Regions from separate parts of the Homo sapiens genome. Here regions 2, 3 and 4 are each linked to region 1. Evidence: fine-mapped QTL for protein levels in blood plasma. A gene starts in region 1. Each other region holds a variant in brackets. All regions are shown on one strand. Distances are between the middles of the regions.

Region 1 (2,610 bases):
AAAGTGACAGAAAGCAATAAACTGTCCTAATCTATGCCACTGGCAATGTGGACCTAAATGAGTTAGCGTTCTTATCTTAAAAAAAAAAATTAAGAGAGAAGAGGCTGGGTGCAGTGGCTCATGCCTGTAATCCCAATGCTTTGGGAGTCTGAGGTGGGAGAATTGCTTGAAGACAGGAGCTCAAGACCAGCATGGACAATATAGCAAGACTCTATCTCTACCAAAAATTTTAAAAATTAGCCAAGCATAGTGGCGCATATCTGTAGTCCTAGACACTCAGGAGGCTGAGTGGGAGGACTGCTTGAGACCTGGAGTTACAGGCTGCAGTGAGCTACGATTGCACCACTGCACTCCAGCCTGGGCAACAGAGCAAGACCCTGTCTCAAAAAAGGGGGTTGGGGAAGAGAATAAGATAAAGAGAACCTAACTGACTTTGATTGCTGCTAGTATGTATTTGATTTATCCTGCCTTGTTCAAAAAACAGGAGGAAATAAGGAAATGGACAGTAAGACAAATTATAGAGATCTGTATATTGTAGTAGGATACAAAGTACAACAAGCAAGACACCGGAAAAAAGGATAATAAAGTAAACTAGATATGGGAGTAACCCATATTTAGCAACCCCCTATATTTATTATTGCAATTGATTTGTATTGCCCCAGAAGAAAGACAAAAAATAAACTCAGGAAGAGCTGAGACCAGGTTTCTCACTGTTCTCCCAAAGAGAATTCAAACTTACCGGCCACTAAGAAGATAGTCAAAATCAACAGTAGCCCTAGGTTAGCAGTTCTCCAAGGGCAGAGCATTTCTGTTTTCTCTTTTTCTGCCCTTCACTCAGTACTTTTCCTCCACACAGGTACAGAAGGAACTGTGCGCATGGTGAGACCCTCTCTGGTCAACTTCTCAGTACAGGATCCTCTTACCCCATCAACAGTGGGGCACTCCCTTCCTTCTAGCCCCTTCCTTCACGTCTATGTGGTTTAGCCTGGTTAGTAACTTGGACGAACAGAAGCTTTTCTCTGGAACTTGACACAGCAATAGATTTCCTGTATGAAGCCCTGAAGCAAAGACGGAGGAAGCAGATTGATTGAATTATCTCTCAGCTCATTGGTTCTCCTCTCACTTCTGCTGTACACAGACAAACTTTACAGTAAGGCATTGAACGTGTCCAAGATAAACAGATTTGTCTAAACTTGCACCAAAAAGTAAAACAGAATATTGATCTACTTTGGCCCATCCTTGTAAATTTCCCAATTATGATGACTTTTAGAGGCTTTCTCCAGGTTGAAGAGCTTTACGGCCTTAGTATTTGAGTCTGGAATACAATATGTTTTCTTGAAAATTATTGTGTGAAATTCCTGTCTATAATGGGAGTCAACACACAACCCTGTAAACATCATATGTGTATTAGTTTCCTATTGCTACTGTAAGAAATTACCACAAACTCAGTGGCTTAACACAACACAACATTTATTATCTTACAGTTCTGGTGATCAGAAGTCTGAAATGGATCTTAGGGGACTAAAATCAAGGTGTTGGAAGGGCTGCACTCCATCTGGAGGCTCGGGCAGAATTTGCTCCCTGCCTTTTCCAGCGATTTGAGAATGCCTGCATTTCTTGGCTTGCAGCTACATCATTCGGACCTCTGGTCCACTGTCACATCTTCTCTGACTGTGACCCTTATGCCTCCCTTTTATAAAGACCTTGTGATTATTTTTGGTCCACCCAAATAATCCAACATGATCTAATTTCAAGATCTTAATTTAATCACATCTGCAAAGTCCTTTTTGCCACACAAGGTAACATTCACAGGTTTCGGTAATTCGGACATAGGTATCTACCTTGTTGGGGGTGAGGGCATTCTGTTTATCAGAACTCAGTACTTATTGCCATTCAGTTTCACCTTTGGAAAATTAGACTGATCATTTTAACCAAATTACAAATAATCACCCATCTCTTAGTTGCCACACATCTGGAATTCAGACTCCCCCTAACCAAAAAAAAAAAACAACAACAACAACAAAAAAACCTCTTCCTTACTGTTGCTAGTTACTATGTTACTATGCTTTTAAGTTATGTCTGAGAGAGGGAAAAATCTTCTATGTGCTGAGAATTTTCTGCCCCAAGGCAAAACTGTACAGGAAGGGGAAGAAAACATTGCAAACAGGAAAAAGATTAAACAGCATGCATTTTTTTTCTCAGTTAGCAGTTTCATCTTCCTTCTTGCCAAACATTATAAATATTTCCCCCCTTCCCCTTCTCAAGCTTTTTTTTCCAGTTAATTAATTTGATGAAGACAGTGAAACCAGATCCTTGAGGGCATGGAACACTTAAGGGTATGAGCTGTGACAATGGGAAGACCAAAACAAAAATGTCTTCTCTTCTGTCTAATGTTTCACCAGGTGTCGGAAAATTAGTGAGAATACATCATTTAAAATACAGATAATATTCTGGTTTTCCACTACATAGAAGTGAAAGTTGGCCGGGAGTAGTGGCTCATGTCTGTAATCTTAGGACACTGGGAGGCCGAGGCGGGCAGATTGCCTGAGCTCAGGAGTTCGAGACCAGCCTGGGCAACATGACAAAACTCCAAACTCCATCTCTACTTAA
Region 2 (2,610 bases), 120 kb before region 1:
ATCACCACCATACAATTACATGGAAATTAAACAACTTGCACCTGAATGACATTAGGGTAAATAATGAAATTACAGTGGAAATCAGGATGTTCTTTGAAACTAATGAGAACAAAACTACAACATACTAGAATCTCTGGGACACAGCTAAGGCAGAGTTAAGAGGGAAATTTATAGCACTAAATGCCCACATCACAAAGTTAGAAAGATCTCAATTTTAAAAATGAGCATTACAACTAAAAGAACTAGAGAAGCAGGAGCAAACCAACCCCAAAGCTAGCATAAGACAAGAAATAACCAAAACCAGAGCTGAACTGAAAATAGCCTTGGAGACACAAAAAATTGCAATCAAAAAGGACAAAAGGAATATTACCACTGACCCCATAGAAATACAAATAACCATCAGAGATGACTATGCACACCTCTACGCACACAAACTAGAAAATCTAGAAGAAATGGATAAATTCCTGGACACATACACCCACCCAAGACTGAACCAGGAAGAAAAGGAATTCCCAAACGGACCAATGACAAGCTTTGAAATTAAATCAGTAATAAGTAGCCTACAAAACAGGAAAAGCCCTGGACTGGATGAATTCAAAGCCAAATTCTACCCCATGTAACAAAACAGAGCTGGTACCATTCCTACTGAAATTATTCTAAAACATTGAGGAGGAGGGACTCCTCTCTAGCTTATTCTATGAGGCCAGCATCATCCTGATGCCAAAATCTGGCAGACAGAATGGAAAAACAGAAAAAGAAAACTTCAGGCCAATATCCTTGATGAACATAAATGCAAAAATCTCCAACAAAATACTAGCATACCAAATACAGCAGCACAATAAAAAGCTAATCCACCATGATCAAGTAGGCTTTATCCCTGGGATGCAAGGTGTGTTCAACATACAGTAAACAATAAACACGATTCATTACATAAGCAGAACTAATTACAAAAGCCACATGATCATCTCAATAGATACAGAAAAGGCTTTTGATAAAATTTAACATTGCTTTATGTTAAAAACTCTGAAGAAATTAGGTATTGAAGGAACATACTCAAAATAATAAGAGTCATCTATGACTAACCCGCAGCCAACATCATACCAACTGGGCAAAAGCTGGTAGCATTTCCCTTGAAAACCGGCACAAAATAAGGATGCCCTCTCTTACCACTCCTATTCAACATAACACTGGAAGTCCTGGCCAAAGCAATCAGGCAAGAGAAAGAAATAGGCTGGGCGCAGTGGCTCACACCTGTAATCC[C/T]GGCACTTTGGGAGGCCGAGGCGGGCAGATCACGAGGTCAGGAGATCGAGACCATCCTGGCTAACATGGTGAAACCCCGTCTCTACTAAAAATACAAAAAAAAAAATTAGCTGGGCACGGTGGCAGGCGCCTGCAGTCCCAGCTACTTGGGAGGCTGAGGCAGGAGAATGGCGTGAACCCGGGAGGCAGAGCTTGCAGTGAGCCGAGATCATGCCACTGCACTCCAGGCTGGGCAACAGAGCGAGACTCCATCTCAAAAAAAAAAAAAGACATCTAAATAGGAAGAGAGGAAGTTAATCTATCCCTATTTGTAGATGACATTATTCTATATTTAGAAAACCCCCCAGTCTCAGCCCAAAAGACCCTTAAGCTGACAAACAACTGATAAACAGCAAAGTTTCAGGATATGAAAATTACTAGTATTTCTATATAGTAACAACAGCCAATCCAAGAGCCATATCAGAAATGTGATCCCATTCACAATTGCCACAAAAGAATAAAATACCTAGGAATGCAGCTACCCAGGGAGGTGAAAGATCTCTGCAATGAGAGTTCCAAAATACCAGTCAAAGAAAATGGAGATGACACAAACAAATGGAAAAACATTCCATGCTCATGGATAAGAGCATGGATAATAATCAGTATTATTATAATGACTATACTGCCCAAAGCAATTTATAGATTAAATGATCTTTCTATAAAATTACCAATAACATTCTTCACTGAACTAGAAAAAACTATTTTGAAATTCATATGGAACCAAAACAGAACCCAAATACACAAGGCAATCCTAAGAAAAAAGAACAATACAGTAGACATCATGCTACCTGACTTCAAACTATACCACAAGACTACAGTAATGAAAGCAGCATGGTACTGGTATAAAAACAGACACATAGACCAATGGAACAAAATAGAGAACCCAGAAATAAGACCGCTCATCTATAACCATCTGATCTTTGACAAAGCTGCCAAAAACAAGCAATGGGGAAAGGACTCTACTCAATAAATGGTGCTGAGATAACTGACTAGCCATAAGCAAAAGATTGAAAGTGGACCTCTTCCTTACACCATATACAAAAATCAACTCAAGATGGAATAAAGACTTAAATGTAAAAACCGAAACCATAAAAAACCTTGGAAGACAACCTAGGTAATACCATTCTGGACATAGGAACTGGCAATGATTTCATGACAAACACACCAACAGCAATTGCAACAAAACCAAAAATTGACAGATGGGATCTATTTAAACTTAAGAGCTTCTGCACAGCAAAAGAAACTATCAACAGAGTAAACAGATGACCCACAGAATGGAAGAAAATATTTTCAAACTATGCATTCGACAAA
Region 3 (2,610 bases), 46 kb before region 1:
CTAGAGGCCAATCAGGAGAGATTAGACCAAACACATACCAAAACTCAAGAAGGAATGACTTTGAGAAAAAATAGAACTAACAGATTACCTAATAAATCTGACCATGTAGAAAATATTACTAAGGGGTTCTCTAGTTTTGTCAATAGGCTTAGTGATAGTTCACGATAGGTACATACATTCTTAAGGAAACAAAAAAGGTAAAGCACTTATGAAGTCCAAGGAAAAAAAGTCATTTGAAAGAGAAAGCATGAGTGTATTTCTTGATTCAGCACTTAACAGTACTTAAATATTCAAATTGATGGGAACATAGGCTATTTAATGAAAAATTGCATTACCTCAACTAAAGTTTGAAGGAAAGGAAGAAGGTAATGTGAAATCCTCATCTACCATAAGAAGTTGTGATTACATAATGTCTAAATTTGATACAGTAAGAAATAGCAGTATGAGCATGTTGTATAAAAATGGCACTAATTACCAGAAGAAACACTGGAAAATTTGAAAGTACCTACCTGTGGGGAGTTTAATGGAGATGGCAATTGGGTTGGAAAGACAGGGGTAGAGCTAATGTTTTTCAGGAAGCCTTACAGAACAATTGCACTTTAAATATGTTTGTTGATATTTAATAGTTTTTAAATAACAAGAAATGAGAGTAGGATGAGAGCAGAGAGTAAATAAACTAAACAGTGATTAAATGAATCATAGATGTTATTATAAGACATTTAAGAAATTCAATGATGAAAAGTCCAGAAAACAAAATTACAACAAACTAAAAATTCATAAAAGCAACTTTGAGTAAATGTATCCTTCTAATAGAACCATAATTACATGCTTCAAAGTATACTTTATCTTTCAATAAGCCATAAGTATTATTTTTAAAAGTATACTACTCATGCTAATTAACTACTAGCATAGAAGTGAACATTAATAGTAGAATTAAACTGCATTCTAAAAAAGGGCTTTTTACAACAAATGTCTGTACTATTCTCCTCAACTCATCTCTTTATTTTGGTCAGGGAAGAGATAAAAATGAAGAGTGGGGAGAGCATCCTCGAACAAAATATATTTGCACATCTTTTTTTTTCTTAACTCTTTTAAAAGAATGGAAAAAAATAAAAAATAAAACTAAAAGAATTACTGACCAGGAAGTAGCTCTATGTACAGACTCTTGTTGCCAGTCAAATGGGAGACGTGGCAGGTCACGGTAGACACATTGTGGACCTCCCAGTGGCATGTACTCTTAACAGTCACTGTGCCATTGC[T/C]CCAGTATTCTTGCTTAGTGGCACAATCGCCCTCTGGGATCCAGGAGATATGCGCAGCTGGCTTCCCTGCAACTGCCTTGCATACTGCAGTTCTATTCCTGTTTTGAAACAGGGTCACTTCAGGTGTAACTGCAGAGAGGAAAGAGGGAAAAAAATGCTTCGGTTTTCACATAAAGCATATGGAATTCAGAGAGACATTTGTTTCCGTCACAAATCTGGTGATGTGAAATACCTCAATATATGATGCTCCTTACCTAACACTTGGAGGTGATATCCACGATGGAAATTCCCATCAGGTGTTACCATTATGCATCTGTAATACCCGTCATGAGTGATGGCCACGGTACGAATCTGAAGGTCCGAATTCTGATCAGGTCTGGAGACCCAGGTTATTCTCTCATCAGTACAGTTGGTTTCCTTGGTCTCATTTGTTTCTTTCTTGTAGGCTTTTGTGCAGGAAGGCTGGCCTCTCAGGATTATTTCCCATGTTATTATGATCAAATTTCTTAATGCGATAGGAGGGCAACAAAGCACAGCATTTGTAGCCATCTTTACAGGCCATGAAGTGTTAACTGGACATGAAAAGAGAATGATAAAAGAAAAGCTTGATAAAGAACTTCATGTGTTACATTTATCCACAACATATGAAGTTACACTAGAACATAACTTTGTTGGTGATCTTATTCCAAAAATATTAGACCTTCATAAAAAATTAAAATTCTCAAAATATAAATAATATATTGAACCCAATCTAGAGATTAACCAATTTTCTCCTGTATTATGTATTATTAGAAATATGATATATAATAAAGTATTTTTTATATTAATGGAGAAGTTTTAATATCTAGAAACAAAGAGAATTGTAAATTAAACAACAAAGGCAATGTTCTACATCTAATCTTTAGGTGGTGGAGACTATTGCCTTTATCATACAATGTATGTGCCACAGGAAAGAAAATGGAACAATTAGTGATGTGGCTGTCTCCTCCTCAGCTTTGGTGAGCACAAAAAAGTCTATCTCTAAGGTTTTTGTTTCAGACAAACATAAATGTGGTATGTATTAATATATAGTGCTTTCTTTTAAAGTAACTAATATGGCATTTGGGTTGAACTAGCTAGAAATTTTTTTAAGTTCTTTTTTTTAAAAAGAATCACAAAGTCAGTGAAACCCACAGATCTTTAAAAAAAAAAAAACTATTATTCCACCAGTTGAGCCATCCCATAAAAATGAAAAATGATAATGCCCTGTGATAAGAGATGCTTAGAAATATTTATTTCTTGTGAAAATATAGTGTGATATATAATTTTTAAAAAACGATTTATTTCCCTTTAGACATTTTTTATTAAAAAT
Region 4 (2,610 bases), 11 kb before region 1:
ATTGCAGTCTCTGATGTTAGAGAAAAGGCCAAAACTAGAGCCTTGAAAACATTTATAATTAGAGATCTCTTGGAGGCATTGCACTTTACAAAAACAGTGAAGAAAAGTAGGATATAAATGCAATGCCACAAAGCCAAGTGATATGGTTTGGCTGTGTCCCCACCCAAATCTCATCTTGAATTCCCATGTGTTGTGGGAGGGACCTAGTAGGAGGCACTTGAATCATGGGGGCAGGTCTTTCCCATGCTGTTCTCATGATAGTGATTAAGTCTCACAAGATCTGACGGTTTTAAAAACAGGAGTTTCCTGCACAAGCTCTCTTCTCTTGTCTGCTGCCATGTAAGATGTGCCTTTCACCTTCCACCATTATTGTGAGGCCTTCCCAGTCACATAGAACTCTAAGTCCATTAAAACTCTTTCTTTTGTAAATTGCCCAGTCTCAAGTATGTCTTTATCAGAAGTGTGAAAACAGACTAATACAGCAAATTGGTACCAGAAGAGTGGGGCACTGCTGAAAAGATACCCAAAAATGTTGAACTGACTTTGGAGGGTAGCAGGTAGAGGTTGGAACAGTTTGGAGGGCTCAGAAGAAGAAAGGAAAATGTGGGAAAGTTAGGAACATCCTAGAGACTTGTTGAATGGCTTTGGCCAAAATGCTGATAATGATACGGACAATGAAATCCAGGCTTAGGTGGTCTCAGATGGGGATGAGGATCTTGTTGGGAACTGGAGCAAAGGTGACTCTTGTTATGTTTTAACAAAGATACTGCCAGCATTTTGCTCCTGCCCTAGAGATGTGTGGAACTTTGAACTTGAGAGAGATGATTTAGGGTATCTGGTAGAAGAAATTTCTAAGCAGCAAAGTATTCAAGATGCGACTTGGGTGCTGTTAAAGGCATTCAGTTTTATAAGTGAAGCAGAGCACAAAAGTTGATAAAATTTGCAGCCTGACAGTGTCATAGAAAAAAAAAATCCCACTTTCTGAGGAGAAATTCAAGCCAGCTGCAGAAATTTGCCTAGGTAACAAGGAGCTGAATGTTAATCCCCAAGA[C/T]AAGGTGGAAAATGTCTCCAGGGCATGTCAGAGGCCTTCACAGCAGCCCCTCCCATCACAGGCCTGGAGGGTTAGGAGAAAAAAATGGTTTTGTGGGCCAGGTCAGGAGTCCATATGCTGTGTGCAGCCTAGGGACTTGGTTCCCTGTGTGCCAGCTGCTCCAGCCATGGCTGAAAGGGGCCAACATACAGCTCAGGCCATGGCTTCAGAGGGTGCAAGCCTCAAGCTGTGGCAGCTTCCATGTGGTGTTGAGCCTGCCAGTGCATGGAAGTCAAGAATGGGGGTTTGGGAACCTCTGCCTAGATTTCAGAGGATGTACAGTAATACCTGGATGTCCAGGCAGAAGTTTGCTGCAGGGGCAGGACTCTCATGGAGAACCTCTGCTAGGGCAGTATGGAATGGAAATGTGGGGTTGGAGCCCCCACACAGAGTCCCTACTGAGGCACTGCCTAGTGGAGCTGTGAGAAGAGGGCCACCATACTCCAGACCCCAGAATGGTAGATCCATTGACAACTTGCACTCTGCCCCTGTAAAGGTCACAGACACTCAATGCCAGCTCATGAAAGCAGCCAGGAGGGTGGCTGTACCCTGCAAAGCCACAGGGGCAGAGCTACCCAAGACCATGGGGACCCTCCTCTTGCATCAGCATGACCTGGATGTGAGACATGGAATCAAAGGAGGTCATTTTGGAGCTTTAAGATTTGACTGCCCTGCTGGATTTTGGACTTGCATGGGGCCTGTAGCCCCTTTGTTTTGACCAATTTCTCCCATTTGGAATGACTGTATTTCACAATGCCTGTACCCCCATTGTATCTAGGAAGTAACTAACTTGCTTTTGATTTTACAGGCTCATAGGCAGAAGAGACTTGCCTTGTCTCTGATGTGACTTTAAACTGTGGACTTTTGAGTTAATGCTGAAATGAATCAAGACTTTGGGGAACTGTTGGGAAGGGATGATTGGTCTTGAAATGTGAGGACATGAGATTTGGGAGGGTCCAGGGGCAGAATGATATGGTTTGGCTGTGTCCACATCCAAATCTCATCTTAAATTCCCACGTGTTGTGGGAGGTATTTGAACCATGGGGGCAGGTCTTTCCCATGCTGTTCTTGTGATAGTGAATAAATCTCATGAGATCTGATGGTTTTAAAAATGGGAGTTTCCCTGCACAAGCTCTCTTCTCTTGTCTGCAGCCATGTGAGATGTGCCTTTCACCTTCTACCATTATTATAAGACCTTCCCAGCCATGTGGAACTGTAAGTCCATTAAACCTCTTTCTTTTGTAAATTGCCCAGTTTCAGGTATGTCTTTATCAGCAGTGTGAAAATGGACTATTATACCAAGTAAAGAGGAGGTTTCAAGACAGGAAGAATCAAGATTAAATCATATGCAGAACAGTCTTAACCTAAGAATTAAGAAGCTTTGTGATTTGGTAACAAGAAGATCATCAGTGACCTTAAGATCTGAAAGAGAGTAAGTTTAACAAAGAAGTACAAGTGGAAACCAGATTGAAAGGGGCTGATCAGAGGTAATGGAGTCAACAAATGTAGACTTAAGTCTT

Alleles and levels. Alleles are on the strand shown, and positions count from the first base shown. The strength of an association depends on the size of the effect and on how common the allele is.
As copies of C replace T in region 2, the plasma level of the protein whose gene starts at base 1,052 in region 1 goes up (weak association).
With allele T in place of C in region 3, the plasma level of the protein whose gene starts at base 1,052 in region 1 is higher (strong association).
For the plasma level of the protein whose gene starts at base 1,052 in region 1, T is the high allele of the variant in region 4 and C is the other (weak association).

What was found. PIP is the chance, under the fine-mapping model, that this variant and not a neighbour inherited with it causes the effect. Protein levels are from antibody-based Olink assays in UK Biobank. Linkage for the fine-mapping came from a reference panel and not from the study's own genotypes, which makes the PIPs less certain.
Region 2: its variant is fine-mapped to the plasma level of the CD200R1 protein (UK Biobank, PIP above 0.99).
Region 3: its variant is fine-mapped to the plasma level of the CD200R1 protein (UK Biobank, PIP above 0.99). The variant lies in the coding sequence of CD200R1. If it changes the protein, the assay may bind it differently, which can mimic a change of level.
Region 4: its variant is fine-mapped to the plasma level of the CD200R1 protein (UK Biobank, PIP 0.99).

What each region holds. Positions count from the first base shown.
Region 1 is chr3:112,974,052-112,976,661 of GRCh38, forward strand. CD200R1 (CD200 receptor 1) reads right to left here and starts at 1,052. Exons shown (of 8, transcript NM_138806.4): 1 at 740-1,052. The coding sequence starts at 806.
Region 2 is chr3:112,852,139-112,854,748 of GRCh38, forward strand. No RefSeq gene overlaps it. Among named protein-coding and RNA genes, the nearest start is that of CD200R1L, 6.6 kb to the left of the region's middle. The variant C/T (reference allele first, on the strand shown) is at 1,261.
Region 3 is chr3:112,927,677-112,930,286 of GRCh38, forward strand. It overlaps CD200R1 (CD200 receptor 1), which reads right to left. Exons shown (of 8, transcript NM_138806.4): 4 at 1,514-1,831; 5 at 1,140-1,388. Among named protein-coding and RNA genes, the nearest start is that of CD200R1, 46 kb to the right of the region's middle. The variant T/C (reference allele first, on the strand shown) is at 1,260.
Region 4 is chr3:112,962,747-112,965,356 of GRCh38, forward strand. All of the region lies in intron 1 of CD200R1 (CD200 receptor 1), which reads right to left. Among named protein-coding and RNA genes, the nearest start is that of CD200R1, 11 kb to the right of the region's middle. The variant C/T (reference allele first, on the strand shown) is at 1,052.